Linked DNA regions of Homo sapiens. The protein of the gene in region 1 purifies or fractionates together with the protein of each later gene. This does not show direct contact. Each region holds a gene or a part of one and is shown in the gene's direction. Other genes may lie near its edges. The genes, in order: EIF4H, KDM3A, NEK10 and LIX1L.

Region 1 (3,139 bases):
TCGCAGGTGTTATAGAAGTTGCCCACATACTAACGTCTTTCTACCCTTGGCTTAGCTTGGCCACTGGCGCTCAAGCAGAGACACAGTGAACACGGCCATGGCCTGGCCGCCACCAGTTCTGGTGGGAACTGCAGTGTTTTGGTGACATCTCAAACCCTATGTGGGCTCACTCGATGGAGTAATGGCTAATTTGATACTTTATACGTTATTTGCGAGAGTAGATCTTTTTTACTTTTTAATAGGATGGTGCTATTTTTTTTAATGATACCTGCTCATGTAAAAAACAAAATAGAGCAACAGAAAAGTACCAAGAAAGCAAAAACATTTCATCATCAGAAATAGCCAGTGTTAAACTAAGCTTTGTAAAGAAAACTCTGAAGATTCTCATGAATAGTTTGCTTCCTAGAAACCCACCAACAGATTTTTTGTTGTTGTTTTTTTTGAGACGGAGTCTTGCTCTGTTGCCCAGGCTGGAGTGCAGTGGTGCGATCTCGGCTCACTGCAAGCTCTGCCTCCTGGGTTCATGCCATTCTCCTGCCTCAGCCTCCCAAGTAGCTGGGACTACAGGCACCCACCACCACGCCCGGCTAATTTTTTGTATTTTTAGCAGAGACGGGGTTTCATCATGTTAGCCAGGATGGTCTCGATCTCCTGACCTCGTGATCCACCTGCCTCGGCCTCCCAAAGTGCTGGGATTACAGGCATGAGCCACCGCGCCCGGCCCCCACCAACAGATTTGATGAGAGATCCTTGTTCATCTGCTTCACCAGCGTGGTGTGAGCTATTTGTTTCACGCTAGACATTGGTGGTCGAAATCATTTAATCTCATAGTAAAGGGTGTAAATTTACTTTGTACTCACGTGGAAAGGTACACTTCACAGTTTAGTTTGGGGGAAACGTGAAGTTAAATGTTTTAATACTAACTAGGCTTGTTCACTGAACTGTGTAATGTGGGTAAAATACTTTGTAAAGGACCTTATACTCGACTGTATGCCTCCCAGTGTATTTCCCCTAAAGCAGTGCTCTTATTGGTCTAAATCTGTTCAGACTTGCTTTCATTACTTGGTTTGTTAAAATTTATTATTTAACTCAGTCTCTGAACTGGGTGTGAGATCCCTTGGTTTCCAAAACCCTTGCCACCTTTAAAGAATAGAAATCGGCCCCCACCACAGGTGATGCAGTCAGCGCTTATCATTGGAGGTGGTTCTGTGGAGTTGCTAGAACACTGAATGAGCCCGTGCGGTGCTGCTCCTGTGTGCTACAGATCACAACATTTTCGTCAGCTGATCATACCTAACATTGCTTTATGTGACTTTTTTTTTTTTCTTTTTTTTTTTTTTGAGACAGAGGCTCACTCTGTTGCCCAGGCTGGAGTGCAGTGGCATGATTTCGGTTCACTGCAATCTCCGCCTCCAGGGTTCAAGCGATTCTCCTGCCTCAGCCTCCCAAGTAGCTGGGATTACAGGCGCACACCACCACACCCAGCTAATTTTTATATTTTTAGTAGAGACGGGGTCTCTCCGTGTTGGTCAGGCTGGTCTCGAACTCCCAGCCTCAGGTGATCTGCCCACCTCTGCCTCCCAGAGTGCTGGGATTACAGGCGTGAGCCACCACACCCAGCCTATGTGACCTTGATTTTAAAGACGCCTCATTTAATGTTAGTGTTGATTCATTTAATAGTGTTAACATTGAACTCAGGGCCAGCTGTAGTAAGTAGTCTGTGGTGCCATCATTTCAGCCTGTTAGAAAGCTCATCCCACACCGGTTTTGTCTGTAAGACACCTGACAGCCAGCCTGCACTTAAGAACAGCAGACAGCACTTCACACTGCACCTGGGGCCACTTCAGACAGCGATGTCACCAGAAAAAGCCCAAAGGGCAAAACACCCGACACTCATCGTGAAAAGACTTGACAGCTAATAACTGAAACAGGCAGAGCATTATCGTTTTCTGCCTCAGCTGGGATCGTCGCATCTGTGCAGGTCCAGGACTGACTGGAGAAATGCTGCTGGTATCTAGCTTGGGATTACACATGAATTTTAGCGACTGGGTGGATTTGCAAATATGGGATCTGTGGATAATGAGGATGACTGTATAGTGCATACTGCGGGCTCTGGGGGTTCTTCTCAAAGACAAGCTCCCTGAAAGCTTGGAGCCTTGGCACCACTCTCGCAGAGAGTAGCAGTGGCACCCCCTGAGTGCGCAACCAACAGCAGCAAGCTCATTTGTTTAATTATGGTTTAACTTCTTTTCGCCAGTTTTTTTTTTTTTTCCTTGAGACAGAGTCTCACTTCATCACCCAGGCTGAAGTGTAATGGCACGATCTTGGCTCACTGCACCCTCTACCTTCCAGGTTCGAGCGATTATCCTGCCTCAGCCTCATGAGTAGCTGGAACCCCAGGCGTGCGCCACCATGCCCAGCTAATTTTTGTGTTTTTTGTAGAGAGTGAGTCTCACTGTGTTGCCCAGTCTGGTCCTGAACTCCTATACTCACCTCCCACCTCAGCCTCCCAAAGTGCTGGGATTACAGGCGTGAACCAGTCTTTTTACCAAATTTTAACATCAGTAGGTTATACAGTTAAAGTTTAGCTTTCACTGAAGTACAAGCCTGAAGGCCCCTTAAGACCATTGAGAAAATACTCTTTCCTCCTACACACCAGTGGGAATTCAGCATTTCTAAATGAGATGCAGTTTACTTCTGCCAAGAGCCCACTTAGCAGGCACACAAATGAATGGGGAAAGAACGCTTTGCCCCCACAGGAGGCGCCGGTGGGGGTGAGGCGCTGTGCTCTCTGCTCATGCCCCTCTGTGTAGGGCATGGCCAATTTCGGATAACTGCTTTGTTTACCACACAGGTGCTTTGCTTGTAGAATGGCCCACACCTAAAACGCAGCCAAAACAGGAAAATTGGGACTTTGTGTTTTTATTTTGTCTTCATATAGCGTTTTCTTGTGATTTTTGTGTTCTGAGTTGTAAATACTTCTAAATTTCAGGTTTATCTTTTAAAATAGCTGTATAGATTTCTATTAGAAAATAGAGTTCAACCTGCTTTGAGGCTTTCTTGTTTTGCTTAAGCCGTATTAAAATACAGTTTCGTGGTATTAATATTTTTCTACTTTTCATGCAAGCTGAGCATGTAA
Region 2 (8,275 bases), on another chromosome or scaffold:
CTTCTGGGTTGTCTTAGACGGCCAAAAGATTTGGCACCCTCACACAGCCAGTAGTAGTGAGGGGTGTCACAGGCCATATTCCTGCTTGGCAATAACAGGCTCAAGTACGGTGGGGTCAGTCACCCTGTTTCACTGGTGACTGGTGTCACTGGACACTCCTTCCAGCGCTTGTCTTCTTCACAGTCCGTCTTGCTGTAAGTAATGAGATCTTACTAGGAGAGGTGATCCTTTCTCCTAGATGCTTACCCATGTAGTTTGAGAGCAAGGGTGTGTAGCAGATGAATGGTGAAGGTTGGAGGTGCTTTGGGAGCTCAGAGAACTAAGCCGAAACTGTCACATCACCATCTGAGACGGAGCACCAGCTCCATGGAAATATACCAATAGCAGTGTGAAGAGGGACTGCCTTCGGGAGTGGGGACAGAGCTGGCAGAGTTCAGACTAAAGTTTTCCTTCTCTTCATTTAGCCAGTGATGGTGTCTGGAGTGCATCATAAATTGAACTCTGAACTTTGGAAACCTGAATCCTTCAGGAAAGAGTTTGGTGAGCAGGAAGTAGACCTAGTTAATTGTAGGACCAATGAAATCATCACAGGAGCCACAGTAGGAGACTTCTGGGATGGATTTGAAGATGTTCCAAGTATGTATGAAAGATCTTTTAAGGGGGTTGGGGATGTGAAAGGAGGGGACACAGGAATGGCAGGAGTCTGAGACCCATCAGTGGCAGCCGCAGCATTTTCCAGGATTTTGGAGTTTAAAATTAACGTCTCTCCTCCCCTTCCTTGTTACAATGTTTATGCTTTTAAACACTGAGGCATTATTACCTGTTCTGTTGGTCTTTGTTGTCCCTGGACAGAACATCAGATAGGGTCAGTCTCTCTCTCTGAGCAGAATAAGTAATTTCTGTTGCATGCTGGCCTCAGAAAAATGGGTTTACTAAACACCTGTGACCCTTGATGGTTGACGTGCATTGCTGTTGGTTAGTTGGGATGCTGCTCACTTCTTCTGGAACACTGTAGAGGAGGAGCAGATTGGATCGATGACAGCTGTTGAAATACCACCTACATGCAGTGGGCAAAAGGGAGCGGCTGAATCTCCCAAGAATGAGTAGCAGCTTAATAAGCTTCTAGGAAAGACAAGGCCCTGACACAGATCCATTAGTTGGTGATCTTTATTTTGCTGCACCTTGCTGCCTCCTGGGTACAAATGGATTTTTTTACACTGCAGAAATAAAATGGTGGATAGTTGGTAGGAGGGGAAAATTAAGGAAAAGTAATATTTGTATACTAAATTTATCAGGTTATGAAAATTTTGCAGAGACATATTTTATTTGTATTGTTGAGGCATAAAATGCTAATTTGTCATTTATTTTGGTCTGTTTCTGAATTATAAATAGTAATAGTTCATTCTGTTTACCTTTCAGATCGTTTGAAAAATGAAAAAGAACCAATGGTGTTGAAACTTAAGGACTGGCCACCAGGAGAAGATTTTAGAGATATGATGCCTTCCAGGTATGATTATGAAGGTGGGGAGAGATGATTCTGTCCTTCACTTGGTAGGATAAATTCTTTTTTGAGGTAGTGAGAAAACAGTTTTCAAGAAAATAACAAAAGTTCTGTAATTATACTGCCACTGATTTTTCATTTCTAGTCTGTAGTCATTGGAGGCATGTTTATTTTTAGATGAGATGAAGAAGTGATTGGCTTTTAGGCCTGGCTGACTAATGGAACACCACAGATTTTCCATGGTAGGCCCTGCTAGAGAAGAGGCTCACTTTTTCTTACAAGGCTGATTTGGAGGCAGTTGTGGAATCTGACCTGTCAGGGTCAGGACAATGTAGTCACAGCACTGAGTTAGACAAGAAGACATCTACTGGGTAGATCTATTTTCCTGACTGAGCTTGAAACTTTGAAAAGGGTGTCACAACTAATCAATGATATATCTCTAAGAATAACTTTTTGTCTAGAATTTATTGCTGAGATCTTTTGTCTGAACGGTTACAGCTGATTTTGACACATTGGTGTGTTGTAGGAGAGAGAGAAGACATCTTTGTAACTGCTGTACTTCTCATCTTAAATATTTGATGGCTGTCAGTCTGCATGATCACAGATGGATTTGTTCCTTTTGGTGTAGAAGGAACAAAACAGGTTACACAATAATGAATTAGAAAAGCAATCTAACTTTGCAAATTCCTGGTTCTGTTGTTCTAGGTTTGATGATCTGATGGCCAACATTCCACTGCCCGAGTACACAAGGCGAGATGGCAAACTGAATTTGGCCTCTAGGCTGCCAAACTACTTTGTTCGGCCAGATCTGGGCCCCAAGATGTATAATGCTTATGGTAAGGAGGAGATGGCTAACTTTAAAATGGAAATAAAACAATTCAAAATGTTTGGAAAATTGATTTTGTGGGAGGGAGAGGTGGAAAACACCCATAATCCTAATGCGTAATACAGCCACAGCTTTCATTTTTACATATTTCCTTTCGTTCCCTGGCCACATGTTTGTGTGTTTCTTTTCATAGTTGCAGTTGTAGGGCATATGCAATTTTGTGTTTTTCCCTTTACTGTACCTAATTTTACATTGTAAAATCTTTACATGTTACTTAATAGTCTTTAGATGACTTTTAATGGTGTGTGATACATCATTGAGAGAATGTACTTTTATTAGTGATTTCAGTGTTCGGACATTTAGGTCAATCTGCTGGCATTCTAGCTGTCTTAACATCTGCTACAATTAAATGCAGTGTTCTGTGTTGTTGAGTAGAAGTTAGTTACTTAGGATTCAAAGTACCCTTTGAGTTGGACTTTTATTCTTTTGACATGACTCAATACTCACTGTCTAACAAGGAGGATGCCTGGGATAAAGATTGGTTTCTCCATTTACCAGAGCTTTCTTTCATCATCATTATAACTGAGATCTTCGTCAGTTTTACACATGGCCTTTAATTAGGGCTGGATTCGAGTTGGCCATTTTGAAGGAAGTATGTATTGTTGAATGCAGTTCTAGTTGTTTGAATATTTCAGTGAATTTTATTTACTCATTTTTACTATTTGGCCCCTACTTTTCCAGTCCTCCTGGAAATTACTTATTTCTTCCTGCCATAATTACTTCCATGTCATTTTCCATTTCTAGCCTTAGACCTGTGGGTGTCTTTCTCAAAAAGGACAAGGTCTGTTGTTGTCTTCGCTATGTTCTCCAAAGACTGTTGGGGGAGGGAAGGGAAGGAGGGGCAAGGACTCCAGCCCCACAATTCTGTTACGGTTGAGTCAGCTCAGGGAACCACTAGGAGTGTAGTTGGGGACTGTTGTGACAGGGGAGTGTTTTTGTGTGCAAGCTCCCAGCAGTCTCCATGCCCAAGATAGTTCTGCCAGGGTAGGGGTACCAGAGAAATTGTGTGTGGGTGAGAAGACCCGGTGGGCACAAGGCCTCTTGCCTGTTCCTCACTTCTCAGGTCTCTGTTGGTGAGTCCTCCATGTGCTGTGGGTCTGCAGTGTGCTCTCTCGAGGTCCTGTCCCTCGAGCCCCTCAGAGACTGATTAAAGCAGCTGCATGGTTGGGATCTTGGGCAAACTTAAGTATATAAGAGCATTTTTCCAATAAATTGTATAGTTTATCCATGCTTTATAGAAATCCTGAAGCTTTAAAGGTGGGTATCTGAGAAATTTTCAAAAGAATTGCTTGCGTGGTTTAACTAGCTTGGCAGCGGGTCTTTCCCCCTAGACACTAATAGATGGCAGTGTTACTCTATAAAAGCTTTTCCTATGACAAAATGGTTCCCATCCAGAAGCAAGCATTCAGAAGGATGAAAATAATGATGTGTTCATTTTCAAACACCTTATATCTTATTGTAAACATCATTAAAGAGTGGTCTTTTCAAAGGTTGTGTGATTGAGCTGTGACTCTTCCATGAGAGTAAGTGCAAAGGCTCTTTGGAGAGATCATATAATCCAGCCTCTCTTCAGTTCCTGCAACACCCCCCATTTTGCAAATGAGGACCAGGACTTGCGGACAGTAGAAGGGGCATTGACTTGTTCAGGATCTCCAAGGGGCAGCTAGTGGCAGGTCTGAAACTAGTACTTAGATCTCCTGATTTCCAAGCTAGAGCCCATTTCCCTACTCTTCCCCCACTCTTAACTCCCCATCACCCAACAGCCCCTACTGTTTCAGCTTTTTTTCCCCCTTAAAAGTCCATGGTGTTTTGTTTCAGGATGTTTTGTTGTCTAGCACTCCTTTCCCTTTGACCATTATGTTTTTACAATTTTGGTTTCATCTCAGTTTACCATGGTTTAGAGTCTGGTTTTATCAATGTACAGTTACCCATGACTGGGATCCAGTGGACTTTGGGCCAGTGGCTGGGCAGCAGTTATTTCCTTGCTCGTTTTGCACTGTGGCACTGGCTGGATCAGCAGGCAGCCAGTCCTGCTGAGGCTTTGCCTCCTAGTCTCCTTTCCTTACTTTTCTTGCCAGCTCCATCCTCTTCCTATTGCCCTTAGTCTAACCACCATCTTCAAGTTTGTGTTTATCGTTTGCTTATATTTACAATTTTAACATATATATTTGTATTCCTGCACAATATTCTTTCAGTTTTTAGCCTGCTTTTGAACTTCATATAAATAGAATCAGATTTTTTATATTCATCCATGCTGTCATATATCATCCATGTGTTCATTTCATTCATTTTATTTCTATTACATTAATTGCTTTTTTCTGAAATTTTGCTTTTTACTATGGAACTATTTTTCAAATACAGTGAAAACTTGAGAGTCTGGTAGTGACTCCATATAACTCATCACCCAGTTATATAACAGCTTTTAACTTTTTGCCATAATCGTTTCATTGTCTTCTCTCTTTATGTTTTTTCATCATCCTCTCAACTATCCTATGATTTCACCCTAATACCAAACGCTTTACCTACTCCCAGGACTGATATTTCAGCAAGCTGGAAAGAAAGGAAAGTACAACAGGGCTCTGGGGGCCCTGGTCCCAAGCTGGAGTGAAGAAATGTGCCCTCTCAAAAGTATAGCCCCTCTAAAACCAAAGCCCCAGGCAAGCCAGAGATAAAGCCTTCCTCCAAAACAGTATTATGGGGCGTTTTCAGAGGCTGGCAGGTTAGAAAACAGCCGCTGCTTGCTCACTACAAGCTGTGCTTCTCCCTACTGCCCAGTCTAAGAAGCAGAGTCCTGGTGTTACAATGGGTTGCCCAAAGTGACTGCAGGGTAAGCTTCAGGATGATTGTTGAGCAAGGTGAGCTTTCTCCTGTGAGCAAGGAATTAGCCACAGACTGAACACTGTGGGGGACCTGTCTTTCTGGCTCACTCCTCACCCCTCCTCTTTTACAGTTGAGAGAACCAAGGAATGCGTTGGGCAGTATTCCTTCTTATACTCATGATAGCCATTTGACGTTCCAGGTTTATGTGTGTGTGTGGGTGGGTGCTTTCCCTTGGACTCCCCATCTCGAGTGGTCCTTGGGCTTTGTCTCTTGCCCCAGAACTCCTAGGCTGTGGCAACAATCAAAGCCTGAGCTCACTTGATCTAGCAGATGTCCTTTTGGCAAATCCCAGCTTCGGAAGCCTGCTTTAACCACTTCCATTTCCTGCTGTTTTTGGCTTCTGAGTATTCCTTCTTTTCTTGCTAGCACATCGATTGGTTAAAGAATTTTTTTGCAATAATTTGATCCAGAATTTTTATTCTCAGCAGAAGAGTCAATCAGGGACCTACCATCCCCCAGGTAGGTAGTGGAAAGACTGTGGCAGCCTTTGTTGTCTTTTGTAAAACTTAAGGCACTTTGTTTTTGCAGGATTAATCACTCCTGAAGATCGGAAATATGGAACAACAAATCTTCACTTAGATGTATCTGATGCAGCTAATGTCATGGTCTATGTGGGAATTCCCAAAGGACAGTGTGAGCAAGAAGAAGGTAGGGTGCTGAGCATAAAAGGAGGGCTTACTCTTTGAGCCAGGGCTTGTGGTCTGATATCTGCTTTCTCTTCTTGCTCTAGAAGTCCTTAAGACCATCCAAGATGGAGATTCTGACGAACTCACAATAAAGCGATTTATTGAAGGAAAAGAGAAGCCAGGAGCACTGTGGCACATATATGCTGCAAAGGACACGGAGAAGATAAGGGAATTTCTTAAAAAGGTGTGCTGCTTATGGCATGTGTGAACAGAGGCATAAGGAATAGCAATATTATGTTACTACATGTGGTGAACTGACTGGCTTGGCTAGGGGAATTGTCACAACCTGAAAAGTTAAATCTGTACCTGTCAGATTGAATAGGCTGAAGGTGGTTGCTAAGGAACAAGGATTCTAAATGATTAGGGTTACACTTCTAAAAAAAGCAGGCCTTGTCTTTTATGTCTGTGTTTTGTGTTAGAGTGCATTTAGAGATTTTTGTTCTCTGCTTTCAAGTTAGAAGTTAGTTCATCTGATCATCTCCCAGCATATATCTGTTTTTATTGCCTTGAGAATCTGAGCACTTCAGACGTTCATGTATCCTTGGCCCTGAGTGACCATGTTCTGAGTGAGTTGCTAAGTTTGGTTTTGTCCACTGTCATGTAGCAAGTGGTCCTACTTGTTACTAGCAAGGGTTGCAGGGATTTGGAAGATTCTAGGTTTCCCCTGTAGTTGGCAGGTTTTTTTTTCAGCAAGGGCTATGTGTGGAAATTCTAGGCAACTAGAAAGATGAGTCGTGTTCAGTTTTAAAATTGTTTGGCACTGAGGCTGCCGGTTGCAACTCAGGTGTCTTTGGCTGATATTCTTCAGTCATTCATGAGTCTTGGATATGAACATTCGTAACCTGTTAGCTGGCCCCAAGTATGTCTTTAACAAGCATTTGTTTGAATCAAAGTGTTTCTGGCTAAGGATCATTTGGCTCTTCCAGAAAACCGGCTTGGTCACCATATTGTTCTTTTGATATTGTCACTCTGAGTCTCTGCTTTACCAGTTACTGGATCAAGGATAAACAAGTCTAATCTGCAGCTGTCTTTGGGACTGTTTCGTAAGTCAGATTAAGTAAAGGCAGGTTTCTAATAACTTTAAAACAAGTTCATTTATAAGGATACTGAGCCTACTTATGTTTAAAAATCTAGACTAAAATATTGTTTAAATACAGTATTTACAAACTTATGCAGAGCCTGTCAGTCATGGTTTATGGGAACTGACATCACATTTTCTTCGTCATTCTTCTGTTGGTTCATTCAGCTGAAGTCTTTGATACTACTAGTCGTCTTCTGCCAATGGGGGCACTTAAGTTGAAGAAGGCCTGACATTTATGAACTGCCAACACTGTTTAGAGGAAAAAAATGGCTTATTGGGCCTTAGCATGTTACTGAGTTGCATAATATTTTGAATGTATTCTAGGTATCAGAAGAGCAAGGTCAAGAAAACCCAGCAGACCACGATCCTATTCATGATCAAAGCTGGTATTTAGACCGATCATTAAGAAAACGTCTTCATCAAGAGTATGGAGTTCAAGGCTGGGCTATTGTACAGTTTCTTGGGGATGTGGTGTTTATCCCGGCAGGAGCTCCACATCAGGCAAGAATCATTACTTTTTCTTTAATCTCTTTATGTCATGAACTTTTGGGTTTGTTACTGATATATTACTTGGTGTTTTTCAGGTTCATAACTTATATAGCTGCATCAAAGTGGCTGAAGATTTTGTTTCTCCAGAGCATGTTAAACACTGCTTCTGGCTTACTCAGGAATTCCGATATCTGTCACAGACTCATACCAATCACGAAGATAAATTACAGGTAAAAATAGCACCAATTCCTAGCATTCTTTGGCTATGGCTATGGCTTCATGGCCCATTCTTCACCTTATAAAGAGAGTCAGTGAACTTGGCCATATCGTACTTAGTACACAGTGAGTCGAGGAACTTGCTTTATATCTAGTACTACTATCTACTTAAGTGAGGGAGGAACAAGAGGAAATCTCACCTTGGTTTGATTTGATATTGTTTAGAATCTATAAGGGACTGTCCCCACAGAGAAAGGCCTTAGTACTGAAAATGAATAGATGTGACTTCTGATCTTGGCCCAGCTGCCTGTCGGGGTCTTGAACACAGTGCTTAACCTTCAGTGCTGCAGTGTTCTCATCACTCTTAGGTAGAGCAGAACTGAATCTCTGAGACTCAAAGAGGTCTGAGGGGGTGGTATTTTCAAAAGGATTTCAGTAATGAATTATGTAACATAATTTCATGTTTGGAAAATAAGGGAAAAATGATAAAAGCTGTACCTTGGAACTTGCCTCTCCCTGTACTCACTGTGAGTAGG
Region 3 (8,352 bases), on another chromosome or scaffold:
GACTGGCATGGAATCAAATAATATTAAAACAATACAGAAGGCTTAACAGTGGTTTCTCTGTGTGGGAGAATTAGGTGATTTATTTAGGTGTTTCTTTGCTTATCAATAAGTTCTATTTTTTTAAAAAAATATGCATTCCTTATGTATCAGAATATAACAACAGGGGGAAAATTATTTGCCATCATGGATCTTGATGGATGAGAAGGGACTTGCCAAGTGGATAAGGGGATATTGGGTGGGGCACCAATGGCATCTGCTGCAGGGTGGAAGGGCATTCCATGCAGAGGGAACAGCATGCACCAAGTGTGAAAGCTGTGAGCTTAGAGTGTGCTGAGGGAAGTGTGAGCTGCTCAGTGGGGTTGGGGTGTGTGGTTGTGGGGGCCAGTGCTCCAGCAGATGAGGCCTCACATGTAAGAAAGGGGAACAGTTAGCCAGGTTCTACATTCATTTTTGAGGAGTGGGTGTTGGGAGAGCTGAGTAAAGGGTGAGCTGCTCAGTGGAACTGGGGTGTGTGGTTTGGGGAGGCAGTGCTCCAGGAGTTGAGGGCTCACATGTAAGAAAGGGGAACAGTTACGCAGGGTTCTATGTTCGTTTTTGAGGAGTGGGTATTGGCAGAGTGGGGGCGGGGGGCAGTGGCCCTAATGTCAAAATCTGATTTAAAGTTAGTCTTTGCAATAGTTGTAGCTCATCTTTTTTTTTCCCCCAAGTCATTTTGAAAAGGAAGAAAGAAACAACCTTTGTCTCCAATCTGATTTAAGAGTTATCATCCAAAATGATGGCCAAACCCAGCAGACTCTTTCGGGGTGTCTCTGTGCTGGCAGGCAGGGGTTTTTGGAGCGCTACCAACGGGAAGGTGCAGGCATGGGACTTGATTTCTTCAGTGCATCACAGATATATGACACTGTGCTGTTAAACAGATAAAGACAAACCCATCCTGCAGAGACATTTCGTTAAGCCAGTAGAGGGTTTTTTAGAATTCCAGATGGAGGGCTTTTGAGGAATATGCATGCTCTCCCTTTCTCACAGTCTCCACTGCTCTCACCTGGCTCCTTCATGTCATTTTGTTACCGGCCTCACCTCTCTGGGCAATTTTGTATGGGACCCTTCTGTGTTCAGATCACTGATTTTAGGAAATGATCCCAGATTTGATTCACCAAACCCTGATCACTCCAATGGTGGCCTATTGTGCAGGCACAGCTGCAGGCTGGGCACACTCTTTTTTCTCAGTACTGCAAAATGTCAGATGTTTATTTTTCCTAGGTAAAGGCTCACAGGCCTCTTTCTGAGCGTTCTAGGGAGTTAGTGTAGATTGTTCTATTTGGGGAATGCTTAAGACTCTTTACTCAAGAGACCAATTTGTCAAGTTTGAATCCAGTGTGCCTGCGGCTATTTTTATATGTCATCATTTCTAGTGTTTATTTTCTCACAGAAACCATATAAATATTGAGGTATACATAGCAGGCTAGAAACAAAATAAACCTTGAGCTCCTGGAAATCTTTAGACATTTGGTTTTCTCAGCATCGGAATTTTATTTCTTGTCTCTGTACTCATTTTGTACTTTCTAGAAAGAAATTAATGACGAGTACCAAGTGAAGCAAGGCCAATATTCCCTGCATTCTACAACATAAACACTTTTTAAATACAGGAATGACCCCAGGTGTTGGTGTTTTTTGTTTTCAGTTAGAAGCTTTGGCTCCAACTTGGACCAGCCACTTACAATAAAGTCACGTTAATGTTTACTTCCTGTTAATTCTTTCCTGAAAATGTTTTAATTTGTTGAGCTACCATTTGAGAATCACATATCCTTTTGTTTTCTAGTGTTATGCTTTCAGAGCCTTGAGATTTCTCTTCAGTATGGAAAGAAACAGACCACTCTTTAAAAGGTATGAGGTTAGAGAAATATAAGTGATCATTAGGTTTAGGAGATCATTAGATTGAACTGTTTTCACATACTTGGCTTAGATGCAACAGAAGGAAAATAATGCGTCAGTATGCAAACCATGTGTCTTCAGATTTCTTATTTCACAGATAGAAGTGAGCTACTGTAGTGATTCAGTATCCAGCCACACTGAATATTAACAGAATGATGATGAAAGAGCATAAATTGCTATATCAATACAACTCCCCTTAATTACATGTGACTGCTGTGATTTTAGCTTTCTTTTTGATAATTAAAGATATTAACATTTTTAAAAGATGGCATTAAAATATGAGCTTCTTTTTTTCCAGCTAGAAATTTGAAAGTCAATCGGGTAATTTCACTTTAATCAAAGGGAATTTAATCAAAGGGAAAACAAACTGTTTTTTTGTGTGTCTTTGATGGTGTAGGAGCTCATTTGAAGGGGAGGCTGGATGTTCTGGGGTCAAGATACTGTGTTGGTGAGCCTGACCAAAAGGTCACCATTTCGGGAAGCAAACACTGGTTCCCTCAGTGGTGTTCTGCACACCATTTAGTTAGGTGGGTTAGCCAAAATCATAGGCCCAAGTTTTTATTAAAATTTTGTTAATAAGGCAGAATAGACATAAAGTATTGAGTTAATATAGTATTTTTTGTTCAGAAAGCATGGAGCGTCACTTTTCGGCCTTTTGGCTGAGATCAAGTGCAGAAAGCATGGAGCATTTTATGTTGTTACTTTATTTCTATACTGTTTGGATTTAGAGGAAAATGAAGTAAAATTAGTTCTCTTTTTTTTTTTTTTTTTTGACAAAGGCTCATCCTGTTGCTTCTCCTGCCTCAGCCTCCTGAGTAGCTGGGACTACAGGCATGCACCACCACACCTGGCTAATTTTTGTATTTTCAGTAGAGATGGGTTTTCACCACGTTGGCCAGGCTGGTCTTGAACTCCTGACCTCAGGTTATCCACCCGCCTTGGCCTCCCAAAGTGTTGGGATTACAGGCGTGAGCCACCACACCCAGCTACTTATTCTTTATAATCTTTCATTTCAGAGCTCTAAATCATCCCTTTTAGTGAACTCAAAGATTTTAAAACCCCTTGAAACCAGTGTCTTGGGAATGATGAATGAATCTCTTTATTTGTTTTATTTTTCATGTACCAGTATTTTTATTTTCATGAAACTTTTATTTAAAAGTTGGGTTAGTATTTACTTCTTACTAAAATCTGAGTTAAATGACATTTGTGAAAGTGCTCCACACCCAAAAAAACACCCAATAAATGTTTCCTTCTAATGTATTCAATGCCTATACCCCCAAATATCTTACAAGTAAGATTTTTGTATAATCTGTATCATATCTAATTTTAAATTATGGTAAAAATATTAACATGCCATCTACCTTCTTAAAATTTTAAGTGTACAGTGTTATTAACTGTAAGCACAAGGTTGTACAGCAGATCTCTAGAACTTTCTTCTCCATTTGTTTTTTTCTTACCTCTCAAAAACTGTAAATAGTGTATTTTTTCGAGATAAGTTGGGGAATATTATTTCCCCAACTTTGTTGATAACCAAAAGAAGTTAAATTTGTTTCATGTAATTAATCAGTGAGTGAGCTGCATTCAAAAGGGAAGTAATGGGCCGGGTGCGGTGGCTCACACCTGTAATCCCAGCACTTTGGGAGGCCAAGACGGGCGGATCACGAGGTCAGGAGATCGAGACCATCCTGGCTAACATGGTGAAACCCCGTCTCTACTAAAAATACAAAAAATTAGCCGGGCATGGTGGCAGGCACCTGTAGTCCCAGCTACTTGGGAGGCTGAGGCAGGAGAATGGCGTGAACGTGGGAGGCAGAGCTTGCAGTGAGCTGAGATCGTGCCACTGCACTCCAGCCTGGGTGACACAGTGAGACTCTGTCTCAAAAAAATAAAAAAGGGAAGTAATGATCAACTGTGTCCAAGTTCTACTTTAAGTGTGTGTAATATTCTCTGTAGACTTTTCCCCACAGACTTGTTTGAGATCTTCATTGACATAGGGCATTATGTACGTGATATCAGTGCTTATGAAGAATTGGTATCCAAGCTGAATTTATTAGTGGTAAGTCCTGAGTTTTCAATATTTTGGCAGGCTGCTATGTAGTCAGGATGTAATTTATCACAGAAACCCATTTCCTTTTTATATTTTGATTAGGAGGATGAACTGAAGCAAATTGCTGAAAATATTGAAAGCATTAATCAGAACAAAGCTCCTTTGAAATATATAGGCAACTATGCAATTTTGGATCATCTTGGAAGTGGAGCTTTTGGCTGTGTTTACAAGGTGACTTTCCCCTTGGGGAACATTTCTGATACTCCCAACCAAACCGGATGTCACACTTGCACACCGATATTCAATTGAATTAGAACTCTTGTCATTGAAAAATAGCAAACAGATATGAAAATTAGAATGATTGTTTTTGTCCAACAGAGATAGCCACACTAATATTGTTTTAGCTGTAAGCTCTAGAAATTGGCCACTGACTTTTTAAGACAAAAGGCATTATTAATCTCTCACAAAGGTATTCAAAATAGTTTCTCCCAATGCATGATGCAATCTCTAAATTAAAAAATGCTACTAAGTATTGCAGACTGACCCAGGGGATACCAGTGTTTTGATGTTTTGAGCTGAGCTTAATGTAAATACAGCTGGAACTTTAAATGCTCTGTGACTTATTTATATGACTTAGTTACTCATGTGACTTTGTTAGTCTATCTCTTTCTTCCTCTTTCTCTCTTCTCCTTCTTTACCCTGTTCCTTTTGTTGTTGTTGTGTTTTTCTTTATTTTAGGTTAGAAAGCATAGTGGTCAAAATCTTTTAGCAATGAAAGAGGTCAATTTACATAACCCAGCATTTGGAAAGGATAAGAAAGATCGAGACAGCAGCGTAAGGAATATTGTTTCTGAATTAACAATAATTAAAGAGCAGGTAAATGTTTTCCTTGTTTCTGAAGATGTTTTTCTTAAATACATGTCATTGCAAGAAAGTAGAGTTGTGGTGCTCTTGTCCATGCTGCTTATGAACTAGTTCCATGTGAAATAATTGACACTGAAGCAGTGATATTTTTGCCAGCTTTTTTCCTAAGGCTTGACATTGAAGCATAAAACACTGTCTGGAGTTTATATCAGGGTCATGGATGCAAAACAATCGGATTTACAGTACAGAATGCATCATATATGAGAAATCCTTTTCTTTTCATTGTGAGCATATCTATTCTTTTCTCCTTATATTTTAGGATATTTGGTTACTTAGTTACATACATAGAAATATGACTAAGAGTTTCTTGACTTTTGCCAAATGGAACCAAGCTGTTAACATTCCTCAAATATGACTTTATTAGATCTAAAATGTAGATTTTCAAGTTGGGTTATTATGTATTGGCATGAGCAGAATACTCTGATATAATGTAACAGCTCAATTAACTCTCATTATGAAAGTTTGTTTGAGGAGGAAGAATAAACATTTCAAAGAGAAATGGAATTTCTTTGTGTGATCCAAGAACACATTGGTTTCTTTTTCAGCCTTCCTTATTTGCACATTCATCACGAATACTGTTCATTTATAATTCCTGTGGTGCACTATCAGCTTTGCTGCTTTTGTCCTCCACTGGTCACATTTGCATAGCATCTGTGTTGGGATGTAACAAATTCCATAAACAAGGAGACCTTTGTTCATAAAAATCGATAGTTCTACTCCAGTGTGTACATTATAGTAAATATTATCATTAATTGTTTATTTTATAGTTGATTTTATATACTAATAGACTAGACTTTAAAAAGTTTGTTCATGTGTAGTTTGTTCATGTGTTTGTATGGTCATCTAGCCTTCCACAGTGTGCTCTTTCATTGTAGCACAAGGCTAGAACAGGGCTTTTGACCTAAGCCAGTCCAGTGTTTTCATCTGGACCCAAATTTGGTTTTAGTCCTTGTGGGTGAGCCAGGTCCAGAATATGGTTCTGGTTGGTTACCTGGTCACATATTGCTTACGATCTGCTGGCCACTTGCTAGTTGATGCAGTAGATTATTTGTTTTAGCACATTTCCTAAGAAAAGAAACTGTCAAACTAGGGTCAGATAGGAAGCATATGCTTGGGCTTTGAGGTAACTCAAAATTGCCCTCTCACTAGAGGATCAAACTGATGGAAAGGATGATAACATTGAGTCCTTAAAGGAGGAGGTAGTGGCAGGCAGAAGCAAAACAAATGGGGCTAGAATGGAGAGTACATTAAGATTAACCTGCATTAACAAAGAGGATCCCAAATGCAGGTGCTTAGAAAGAGGACTCACAGTACAGTGGGTTATTTCTCTTTCACGGAACAATCCCAAAGTGAGTAAACCAGGTTGAAGGTGTTCTCTGCTCCATGCGATCATTTGGGGATGCAGGCTTTTTTCTCTCTTCTTGTGCTGTTACCTTCTAGTGCACTGTCTTCATCTGTGTGGTTGAAACTGCCATAGCCATGCTCACATCCAAGGTGAGATGAGGAGGATCATGGAGGGCTATTCCCAAGGTTTAGAGTTCACACAGGAAGCACACATGCTTCCTCTCATATTCCACAGGTCAGAACTGAGTGGTAGCCTCACCCCCAGCTTCAAGGGAGGCTGAGAAATCTTCTCTAACTGGGAAGCCATGTCCAGCTTCAACTGTATTGCAATGGGACAGCAGGTTTTTGGTGGACAGCTAGCAATCTCCCTTCAAAAAGACGTGCAGAAAGACCAAAAAGAGATGCAAGCAAGCCATTTGTTGATGTGATGGTGACTGTTCTAAGACAAATTTTATCTAGAAACTCAAATTATAAGCAAAAACTACAAAATTATTAGCATTCTTCTAGAAAATGATCTTTTTTAATTAAAAAATTAGAAATTCCACTAACATTCTTAACTTATATCAAAGAGAAATTGCACCATTTTTTAAAAACGGTGAGGAAGACTTTATTCAATACTATTGCAATAGAAGTCAAACTATTGTAATAGAGGAGAGAGATTGAACCCAACTCTGAATTCGAGGACTGGACAGCTGGGGACTCAGAGCCAATGGTCAGGGTGAGGGAGGGTCAGTGGATGGAAGTTTACTAAGAGGAACTTGGTTAGATATCAAGGGTGAGTGGATGAGAAACTTAATTGGATGTCAAGGGTGGGAAATTTTTCCATAAACTGACTTAGCAGGATATAAGTTGCTAAAACTGACAGACCAAGGATGAGGCCTAGTCACGAAGAGGACTCAGAGGAGCCTGACTAAAGCTTGGTTAAGTAGGAAGTCCTTGTCAACTGTTATTATGACTTAAACTGAGTCGACTCTTAGATTATGTTATTTTCTACTAATCATTTTGGAGAGCATAGAAAGACAGAAATAGTGTAAATAGGCACAAACTTTCCATAAATATTTAGATGGTAGAGAGAGGTAAAGAACAATGAATATTTGTAGTCAACAGAAGTTACCGCATTTCACTTTTCTCCTTTATACAGTCTGTGTGTCGGGTTGTGACAAGGTGTGCTAAAGGAATTCTTAAGGTTCCTTCTACCTCTATAGTTCTCTTGGTTAAGTTCGATAGTAAAGTTAGGTGATAGAACGTTTTTAATTTTATTTAATAAAGCTATAGAGGATTGCTATTTTCAGATCAGTTTATAAGCAACAAGTTTTTAAAAATCACAACAATCTCAGTTCGATGATATCTTGAAATGCTTAGTTTTGTAAATAAATATAATTTCTTTGTAGTTTTCAAATATGAAGTCCAACTAAGTAGTCAGTGAAAAAACTTGTATTTTGAAGCAGTGCAATACATGTTTGTTATTTATTTTCTTATAGCTTTATCATCCCAACATTGTACGTTATTACAAAACATTTCTGGAAAGTAAGTATGAGTTTTCATGATATTTCTAAATAAGGAAACATTTTTGTCACATATATTTTTGTATCAGAATGTCACAAAAGAAACCTAATCAACTATTTTATTGACCTTTTTTTGTTAATATGACAGTAGATGGTCTTAAGCATCACTTTCTTGACTAGTGAAACAGTGACCTAGTCAGTCACCTGAAGATAGTTATAAAATACTTAGCTGCCTGTGTGAAAAACGCATGAACAAACCAAAATAGTTATTGCTATTCTCATATACAAAAAAATCACTTAATAGGATCAAGGAAAAAGAAAACTAATGGATGGTGGTTTCCTTAAGAAAAGAAAGTTGTTTTTGTTGACTCAGGTGTCATTTTCCATCCCCAAAATAAGTTGGAGAGAGCTAGGTCTTTGAGATTTCTTTTACCTGAAGTTCAGGTAAATGCCACAAAGGTGGCGATGGAGCCCAGACTGATTCTGGCAGCCAGGCTTGCTTTCTGCAGGTATGATGGAATGCTGAACTAGAACCAAAACAGATAAAGCTAAACTCAGCCACTCTTTTTTTTTTTTTTTTTTTAAGTAGGGCCTATGACA
Region 4 (8,871 bases), on another chromosome or scaffold:
GCGCGTGCACGAACGCATTTGCACGCGCGCTAGTCCTTCAGTGCGGGTGCACCCTTCCCACCTCCTCAGGCATGCGCTGCGGGGGAAGGGCCGGCTCAAAGGCATGAGTTAGAGGAAGGACTGTATGCCGTGAAGGTCTCCTCCACCCCACGCTGGGTCCCTGCATCTGTGCCTCAGTTTTCCTGCCGAATCTATCAATGAGATGTCTCTCTTGCAGGGATCGGCTTCGTCACTGAGACCTCAGGCCTCTGCCAGCCACTCCCCCTCCCCATACCCCTAGTCATCCTCGGCAGGTCTCAGTCCCGGCTCCATCTGTGCCCTCGCCCCAGCCGCAGCTATGTTGCACACCGAGGGCCACGCTCTTCTTCGGGCGGTGGGTCAGGGTAAGCTACGCTTGGCCCGTTTGCTTCTGGAGGGAGGCGCCTACGTGAATGAGGGTGATGCGCAGGGGGAGACTGCGCTAATGGCAGCCTGTCGGGCCCGCTACGACGACCCCCAGAACAAGGCACGCATGGTACGCTACCTCCTGGAGCAAGGCGCGGACCCCAATATCGCAGACCGATTAGGGCGCACGGCGCTCATGCACGCTTGCGCCGGGGGTGGGGGCGCCGCGGTGGCCTCGCTGCTCCTTGCCCACGGCGCAGACCCCTCAGTCCGAGATCACGCGGGCGCCTCGGCTCTTGTCCACGCCCTGGACCGCGGGGACCGCGAGACCCTTGCCACACTGCTGGACGCCTGCAAGGCCAAGGGTACGGAGGTCATCATCATCACCACCGATACCTCGCCCTCAGGCACCAAGAAGACCCGGCAGTATCTCAATTCTCCACCATCCCCAGGGGTGGAGGACCCTGCTCCCGCCTCTCCTAGCCCGGGGTTCTGCACGTCGCCTTCGGAAATCCAACTGCAGACCGCTGGAGGAGGAGGGCGTGGGATGTTATCCCCTCGCGCCCAGGAAGAAGAGGAGAAGCGGGACGTATTTGAATTCCCTCTTCCTAAGCCCCCCGATGACCCATCCCCTTCCGAGCCGCTCCCCAAACCACCACGCCATCCCCCAAAACCACTCAAAAGGCTCAACTCCGAGCCCTGGGGCCTAGTGGCCCCTCCTCAACCAGTCCCACCCACTGAAGGGAGACCGGGGATCGAGCGCTTGACTGCCGAATTCAATGGCCTGACCCTGACCGGTCGACCCCGTCTTTCCCGACGTCACAGCACCGAAGGCCCTGAGGACCCGCCCCCATGGGCGGAGAAAGTGACTAGCGGGGGTCCTCTCTCTCGCCGAAACACAGCACCAGAAGCTCAGGAGTCTGGTCCCCCTTCAGGGCTGAGGCAGAAACTGAGCCGCATGGAGCCAGTGGAGCTGGACACCCCTGGACACCTTTGCCCTGACTCGCCTGAGTCCAGCCGCCTGTCCCTGGAGCGCCGCCGATACAGCGCCTCCCCGTTGACCCTCCCTCCAGCCGGCTCGGCTCCCTCTCCGCGCCAGTCCCAGGAGAGTCTGCCAGGGGCAGTATCTCCGCTAAGCGGAAGGAGGCGGAGTCCGGGGCTGCTGGAGCGGAGGGGCTCGGGGACGTTGCTCCTGGACCACATCTCGCAAACGCGGCCGGGTTTCCTACCCCCTCTCAACGTCAGTCCCCACCCTCCCATCCCTGACATTCGCCCACAACCCGGAGGTCGGGCGCCTTCGTTGCCTGCCCCTCCTTATGCCGGGGCGCCAGGCTCTCCCAGGACCAAGCGCAAATTGGTGAGACGCCACTCCATGCAGACTGAGCAGATCCGCCTGCTGGGGGGCTTCCAGAGTCTAGGTGGGCCTGGGGAGCCAGGGCGCTGAGAGGAGTGAGAGGAGCCAAGGAGGGTGGGGATTAGGACCTTAATGGGATAGGTGGGAGAACCAGCTCACACACACACCACGAACAAAGGGATCTCTTGCATGTGCTCATGGGTGCACAGTGCACCCACACATGGTTAAACATGTGTCCATAAGCACAGTACTCTTATTAGCAAGAAAGAATAAGTACTCTATTTACTGGGTATATACACACATGTATTCATGCCCTGGTCATTTCACATGCATATGGGATTACTTGTGTACCTACAGGCACAGCATATCAATAAACACACAGGGCTAGGGTCCCAAACTCTCTTGCATTTGTTCAGAAGCAGTAGGGAACCCTTACTTATGGGCAGTCTCCGATGTCTTTGCCCTCCTGCAGAAGCAATCCCTTGCTTTCCATGTATGCCCTGAAACACAGCCTATCATGATTTTGCACACTCTCTCCGTGGACATCCCAGCCCATTCTGCAGGTCTTGCTTCTTTCTCCAGGCCTGGCTCCTTATTCACACCCTGCTTCTAACCCCAACCACTTTTCAGGATATCTTTTTCACTCTTCTTGGGGGTTCCTGCAGCAACCCCCAGCCTCAGTTCTGCTGCTGTCTTTACTGCTCTCAACTTCACTTCTCAACTTCCTGCTTTTTATTCCCACCCTGTTCCTCCAACAACTACAACAGATTGTCTCATTTTCCCAGGGGGTGGGTCATGGGCTCTAAGCTGCTCTTCTGTCTGTCTGAGCTTATGAACACCCCCACAGGTAGAAGTGGGGAGAAACCCTAAATCACTCCTCTCTCCACTTGACATATCAAATAAATGTGTTCAGAAGTCTCTGTTTTGTCACTTCTGCCTGGAGGTGTGGGTATGGGGAATGAGGAATGGGGAGGGAGGGTAACACTAACTTATAGCTATAATTATCCAAGGGATACTTAGCTGTTCCAGCCACCTTCTTTCCAAGAAACCAACTTTTCTATAGAGAAAAGGCAAGTGTCCTGTGTCCTGAAGATTTTAAGGCATTTGACAGGATTTCATTTCCTCCAGTTTCCTCTATGTCCAACCTTGAATTCTTTAAGGTTCCTACAAAGAGTTCCTCCCTCCATCATCAGCAGATATATCCCAGTAGATTAACTGTCTCCTTTTGAAACTTCCTATTTCTTGACTACTCACAGTTTTTATTCAGGGTCTAATTTTCATTTCACCAAGTGTGTTTCTTCTATTTTCTTCTACTTCTGGCCTCTATTTCCCCATCTTTGATTTCTGAGCCACTGTAGGAGAGATGGGGGGAAGCAGTTAATATAATCTCACCTAAGCAAAAATGGCCTGGTGACCACATGATAAAGGGTATGTAGAGTGTGTGTGTGTGCATGTGTGCAAGTGTGTGTGTGTGTGCAAAGTAATCAGAGGAACCCAGTCTGACATATTATACCAACAAGGGTAATTTTCTTAATTCCCCCAACTGGACTTCTCAGTTTGCTAATTTTCTGCATGTATCCTAACTCTTTCTCACTCTAATGGGAGGCAAAGAGACTTGCCCATCCCACTCTCTCTTATTCCCTTCCTCTACTTAGAATAAGTGAACTCAGAAATTTACCCAACAATGTGGCATAGTAAAAAGATAAAAATATTGGGAATCAGAACACCTATGCTTAAACTCTGAATTCCACTTTGCCATCTCTTAGCTATTTAATTTTGGCCATTTTTCTAGCTTCCCTCAGCATCTGTTTCCTTATCCCTAAAATAACAAAATCTAGTTAGTGATTGTGATTGTAAATAAGACATGCACTACAGTACATTGCATAGTTTATGTTCATTAAATGTCAGTATCTTTCTTGCCTTAGCTCCACCACCAATTGCATATGATGTTGGACAAGTCGAATTACTTCTCTGAGCCACAATATCCTCACCTGCAATCTGTGAAATGAAATGGTAGGACAAAATGATCTCTACTCTGTCTGCAATCCTCCCCAATCTTGCATCTAGGCCCATTTTTTTCTTCAAGCCCAGCCCCAAGATTCTGTCCTGCTTTCTAGTGCTTGCCACAGGACTCCCAAAGACGCGCCGAAGCTCTGCGTCTGCCTTTCAGAGGATACGCTTTTTCTCTTTGCAATTGGTTCTGAGAATCCCCACCCTCCTCAATAATTTGCCTATGGCGGAGCAGGAGCCCTCCAGCTCCCGCCCCATCACTGGTGATTGGCATGGGACCTAGCTCGTCCCCGCCCCCACTTGACTGAAGGTTCGGCCCTGGCACCGCCCTGAGTCCCCAGGCGCTAGCTGACTGGGGTGGTTGGGACCGTTAGCTCGGCAGGCTGGCAGGCTCCGGGGCGCTACTCCATTGGCGGCCGGGATGGAGACTATGCGAGCGCAGCGGCTGCAGCCTGGTGTGGGCACCAGCGGGAGGGGCACTCTCCGAGCGCTGCGGCCCGGAGTGACTGGGGCCGCGGCCGCCACCGCCACACCCCCTGCGGGCCCCCCGCCTGCCCCGCCGCCTCCCGCACCGCCCCCGCCGCCGCTGCTCCTGTCTGGGGCCCCAGGACTACCCCTGCCCCCCGGCGCCGCCGGCAGCCCGGCAGTGCTGCGAGAGGCCGTGGAGGCCGTGGTGAGGAGCTTCGCCAAGCACACGCAGGGCTATGGCCGAGGTGAGTCTGCGGGTCTGGCCTCCTGCGCGACACCCTCTGTAAGGGAGCCTTGCTCCCACAGTCCTCCGGATCGCTTTTCCTGGCGTGGAGCCCTCACATGCATTTCCTTTTGGGGAGTTTCCTTCTGGGCTACGCACACGCACAGACGCACACACTCATACACACGTTTAAGCCTCCTACCTCCTCCCCTTTACTGAGTTATTAATATATTCTCCAGGGACTCTTTTTCAGATACAATCCTCTTTTCTTCCTAAGCTTTTCTCCTTTAGAAATGGAATTCCTCCTCCAGCTTAATACCTTAACATCTCTCTGCCTTTGAGAACCAGTCCTCATTGTGTGGGATCCTGTCTTTTATTTCAGATCCAATTTCTCATCCATACCCTCTCAGTCTTTCCTCTGTGATCTCTGCAATTCCTGGACTCACCTGTTAATTTGCTCCAGCCCCTTAACCTTGACTGTTAAATTCTTTACTTACTTACCTTCACTCTGAAATTTCAGTGCAACTTCAGATTTACTGGGGAACTAGGTAGTGCCTTCACAAGTCACTCATAGTAATTGTGTATTTAAATCCGGACCTGTACCACTGAACTCACAGCAGCTTCCTGTGGCTCAGTACCTTACTTTGGTATCTTTTTTAGTATGGAGACTCACAACTCCAGCCTTTCTGTCTGGCTGTGTTTTCCTGGCCCTTGCCCAGGAACTGAGGATAAATCCCAGGCCTTGGCTCTTTCAATGTTAAATTCTGTGGAAATGTGCCAGGTTAGAAACTCTATTTCAGTTAGAAAACTTCGTTAATTTCTGGAAAGAGGGATGTGAGGGTTTTCTTTGTTGTTTTCGTTTAACTAGGGTAGTTTCCTGTCTGAGTTTGAGTTCCAGATTTATAGTGTAAGTAATAAGGAATATATAGTGAAGGGTGTGGAATACAGAATTTAAGCCTGGAATTTACAAGACATCCCTTCTGTCTGCTTGGCCAGGTCCTGCCTGACCTGGAAGTGACTATATCTTTAACTTTCTGTTTAACAATAATACAGAGAAAAGTTACAGGGCTTTTCTGTAGATTTTCTTTTTTTAAGAAAGTTTAGTGAAAAGAGCACACACAGGCTTTGGAGATCTTTGTCACTTACCAGCCAAATCTTTGGGGAAGGGACTTAATTTCACTGAGCTTCAGTTTCTTCAAGGGTTACAATATGGATTGACTGAGACATTGCAAATGACATATAACCTAAAAATGATTATTATCTCAAATTTGTTGGTTCATAGTTCCTTAAGTAGAACATGCTTCACTTTTTCCCACTCTTAAATCCTAATAATGTAAACCCAAAAATTCCTATGAAAACAGATTTTTAGAGCCATTTTGCTATATGTGCCTAATGATTCATTCATCATCAATTTCCCTTTGTTCTTCATACAATTTGAACTCCTATTATAAGACAGGAACTCTGCTAGGTGCTGGGGATACAAATGGATGAATCTGAAACTCATGAGGAAATACTATTTTTCCAATGTAATCCCAAGATTTAACAAGGCTATGTGATGGAACTGCTATTAGCTACTATCCTGCTGCTTCAAGTCTCTAAGTCAAGATCAAGGGAAGGTCTTTGCCTCTGGGCACAGGAGTAGCCTAGAGTGGTCACACTAAATCTGAAGCCTTCCTCTTGGCAACTTACAGGCATTTATTAAAATTATAGAAGAGTACACCCTTTTTCTTGTCTGTGTTACCTGGAGAGCCTCTGCTTTGGCTCCCAAACTGGACATCCTGTAAAAACTTTCATTTCCTTAGCAAGGATGAGGGAACAAGGGGATTGTACTGACAAAGGGCAATTAATCAGGCTTCACACTTCGTGGTGATTTTCTTTCCTATCTCCCCACCTCCCATCGCAGTCTTTCTCATTATTCTTGAGTTTCTCATTTCCAGTCTGAGTGTCCAGCCAGTACTTTAGGAAAGTCTGGCAGATAGTTCAGCTTCAGGCAAGCAGAATCTCTGCCCATTTGGCTCAGAAGTCCTTTACCACATGGAATCACTTATTCTGCTTCAATTCTTAGGCAAAGCTGCCACTGGCATATATTCACATACCCTTGTGACTGATGGCATGTTATTTGGGGGAATGGCTGTATTCCCCTGAATACAATTTACTTTAGCCTCTGCCTAGACAATTCATTCCCTCATCCAGCAATGCTTTACCACATCATCTTCAATTAACATCCTTCATCTTCTTCCTGAATGCTCCAAATCCACCTTTTCCAATCAGTCTTTAGATCTACCTTCACTCATGTGGGCTATCAGTATGTATGTATATATGTATGTATGTATGTATTTACTTATTTATTTTAAAAAGCTTTCCTGTCCTTTATCTGCCTCCCTCACCCACTTACCCAAGATACACACACAGCTCAGTATTCTGTAGGATCTTGATAAGTTTGTAGTGCATGGGATTTGTAATCAGAGGACCTAGCCCTGTCAAATAGTTGGCTGTGTGATCTTGGAGAAGTTGCTTAATCTCTCTATGCTTCATCTGTTCTCTTCATTCATTTACCAAATATTTATTGATCACCAGATGCAGTGGTGGACAAGGCAGATATTTAGTCCCTATCTTGATGGAGCTCACAGTTTACATTACAGAGCATGTATAAAGATTAATGGTGTAGTAAAGCAGGCCAGCCCAATACAAAGAGGGTTGACTTTGGAGCCAAACAAACATTGTTTCTAAATCCTGGTTCTGCCACTTCTGGCCTGTTCCTTAACTTGCTTACTTTTTGTAAAATGGGTATTATAATACTTATCCTGATAGTTTTGTGTGGATTAAATAAGACAACGAATATAAAGCATGCAGCACCTGGTACTCAGTATGGTTGCTACTATTGTGCATTTGGAAATGCTTTGGAAACTGCAAATGATAGGTACTGTTCTGCATTGCCATTTCCTTTGCACCCTTTTTTTCTATGGCATATAGTCTCTTTCTCATGTTTGACATCTGGCAATCTCTAAACTGGCAGGATCGAGTAACTCACTTTCCTTGCTCTGTAATTGCTACATTTCCCTCTTCAAACCTGTTGTTTTGGAAGTATTGCTATCCTTTTATGTTACAATATGGCTGCATGATTGGAGATTTTGCCCTGTTATTTCACTAAGTTGAACAAATGAATCTTGTGTAGTATTTTCTATTTAGTTGTTCCTTTTCCTCAGAATCACAGATAGCTTCTTTTCTGTAAGACTGGAGTTAAATGGGTTGGGCTGAATATTTCCAATTTTTGGAAATGCTGGATTAGTTCCTATATTAGTTTCCTGTGGCTGCTGTAACAAATTATCACAACTTTAGTGGCTTAAACCAACAGAAATTTGTTCTCTCATAGTTCTGGAGGCCAGAAGTCCAAAATCAGTATTACTGGGCCAAAATCAAGGTGTTGGCAGGGCCGTGCTCCCTCCAGAAGCTCTAGGGGAGAATTCATTCCTTGCCTCTTCCAGCTTCTGGTGGCTGCTGACATTGGTTTATTACGTGGTTTATTGCTGTATCACTATAATCTCTGCCTCCGTGACTCCTCCTCTTCATCAAATATGCCTCCTTTTTTTTTTTTTAAGAAATGGAATCTCGCTGTGTTGCCTAGGCTGGACTGCAGTGGTGCAATCATAGCTCACCGCAGCCTGGAACTGCTGGGCTCCAGTGATCCTCCCACCCGCCTCAGCCTCCCAAGTAGCTAGACTACAGGTGCATGTCACCACACCTGGCTGATTTTAAAAAATTTTTTTGTAGAGATGAGATCCCACAGTGTTGCCCAGGCTGATCTTGAACTCCTGGCCTCAAGTGATCATCCTGCTTTGGCCTCCCAAAGTGCTGGAATTATAGGCATGAGTCAGTGTGCCCATCCTGCCTCCCTCTTATAAGGACACTTGTGAATGCACTTAGGGCCCACCTATATAATCTAGGTCATCTCCCCATCTCAGATCATTTAAACTCATCTGCAAAGTCTTTGCCAGATAATGTCACATTCACAGGTTCCAAGGATTAAGACATGGACATTTTGGCAGGTGGCATTATTCAGTCTACCAGAGTCCCCTCCCAAAGTCACTGTTACTTTGCAGTCTCTCCTTCCAAAGAGACTGTGGATCGTGGGCTATTTAGGGGCAGATGTACCTTCTAAACATTGAAATAGGAAATAGATGAACTATTGTTAACTAGCTTCCCTATCTTCCATAATAATGTGAATAGAGTCAGTCTATTCTCGCCATCCTCTATGATCAAGGAGAATCTTTTTACTCACCTCTTAACTTCATTATCTCTTTATTCCTGCTTCCCCACCACAAAGTTGTATTTATTACTTTTTTCTTTTATTTTTGTTAATTACCTTCCTGGCAAGGTTGTATTTATCCTTATGATATAAAATTTTTACTGTAGTTTCATATATTGTTTTAAT

Evidence for each region.
Region 2: the proteins of EIF4H (region 1) and KDM3A fractionate together in Homo sapiens (co-fractionation; one large-scale study listed by BioGRID). This does not show direct contact.
Region 3: the proteins of EIF4H (region 1) and NEK10 purify together in Homo sapiens (co-immunoprecipitation; one large-scale study listed by IntAct). This does not show direct contact.
Region 4: the proteins of EIF4H (region 1) and LIX1L fractionate together in Homo sapiens (co-fractionation; one large-scale study listed by BioGRID). This does not show direct contact.

The regions. Positions count from the first base shown.
Region 1 is NC_000007.14:74,191,356-74,194,494, forward strand, and holds part of EIF4H (eukaryotic translation initiation factor 4H), read left to right. Parts: intron 1-3,139. UniProt on the Homo sapiens protein: Stimulates the RNA helicase activity of EIF4A in the translation initiation complex. Binds weakly mRNA.
Region 2 is NC_000002.12:86,483,523-86,491,797, forward strand, and holds part of KDM3A (lysine-specific demethylase 3A), read left to right. Parts: intron 1-464; coding exon 465-636; intron 637-1,419; coding exon 1,420-1,507; intron 1,508-2,206; coding exon 2,207-2,337; intron 2,338-5,795; coding exon 5,796-5,915; intron 5,916-5,997; coding exon 5,998-6,137; intron 6,138-7,358; coding exon 7,359-7,535; intron 7,536-7,618; coding exon 7,619-7,753; intron 7,754-8,275. UniProt on the Homo sapiens protein: Histone demethylase that specifically demethylates 'Lys-9' of histone H3, thereby playing a central role in histone code.
Region 3 is NC_000003.12:27,287,120-27,295,471, reverse strand, and holds part of NEK10 (serine/threonine-protein kinase Nek10), read left to right. Parts: intron 1-1,819; coding exon 1,820-1,884; intron 1,885-3,885; coding exon 3,886-3,988; intron 3,989-4,081; coding exon 4,082-4,210; intron 4,211-4,717; coding exon 4,718-4,855; intron 4,856-7,728; coding exon 7,729-7,774; intron 7,775-8,352. UniProt on the Homo sapiens protein: Plays a role in the cellular response to UV irradiation. Mediates G2/M cell cycle arrest, MEK autoactivation and ERK1/2-signaling pathway activation in response to UV irradiation.
Region 4 is NC_000001.11:145,953,226-145,962,096, reverse strand, and holds the start of LIX1L (LIX1-like protein), read left to right. Parts: upstream 1-4,079; 5' UTR 4,080-4,169; coding exon 4,170-4,461; intron 4,462-8,871. Other genes in the region: ANKRD34A (ankyrin repeat domain-containing protein 34A), read left to right, coding at 338-1,828.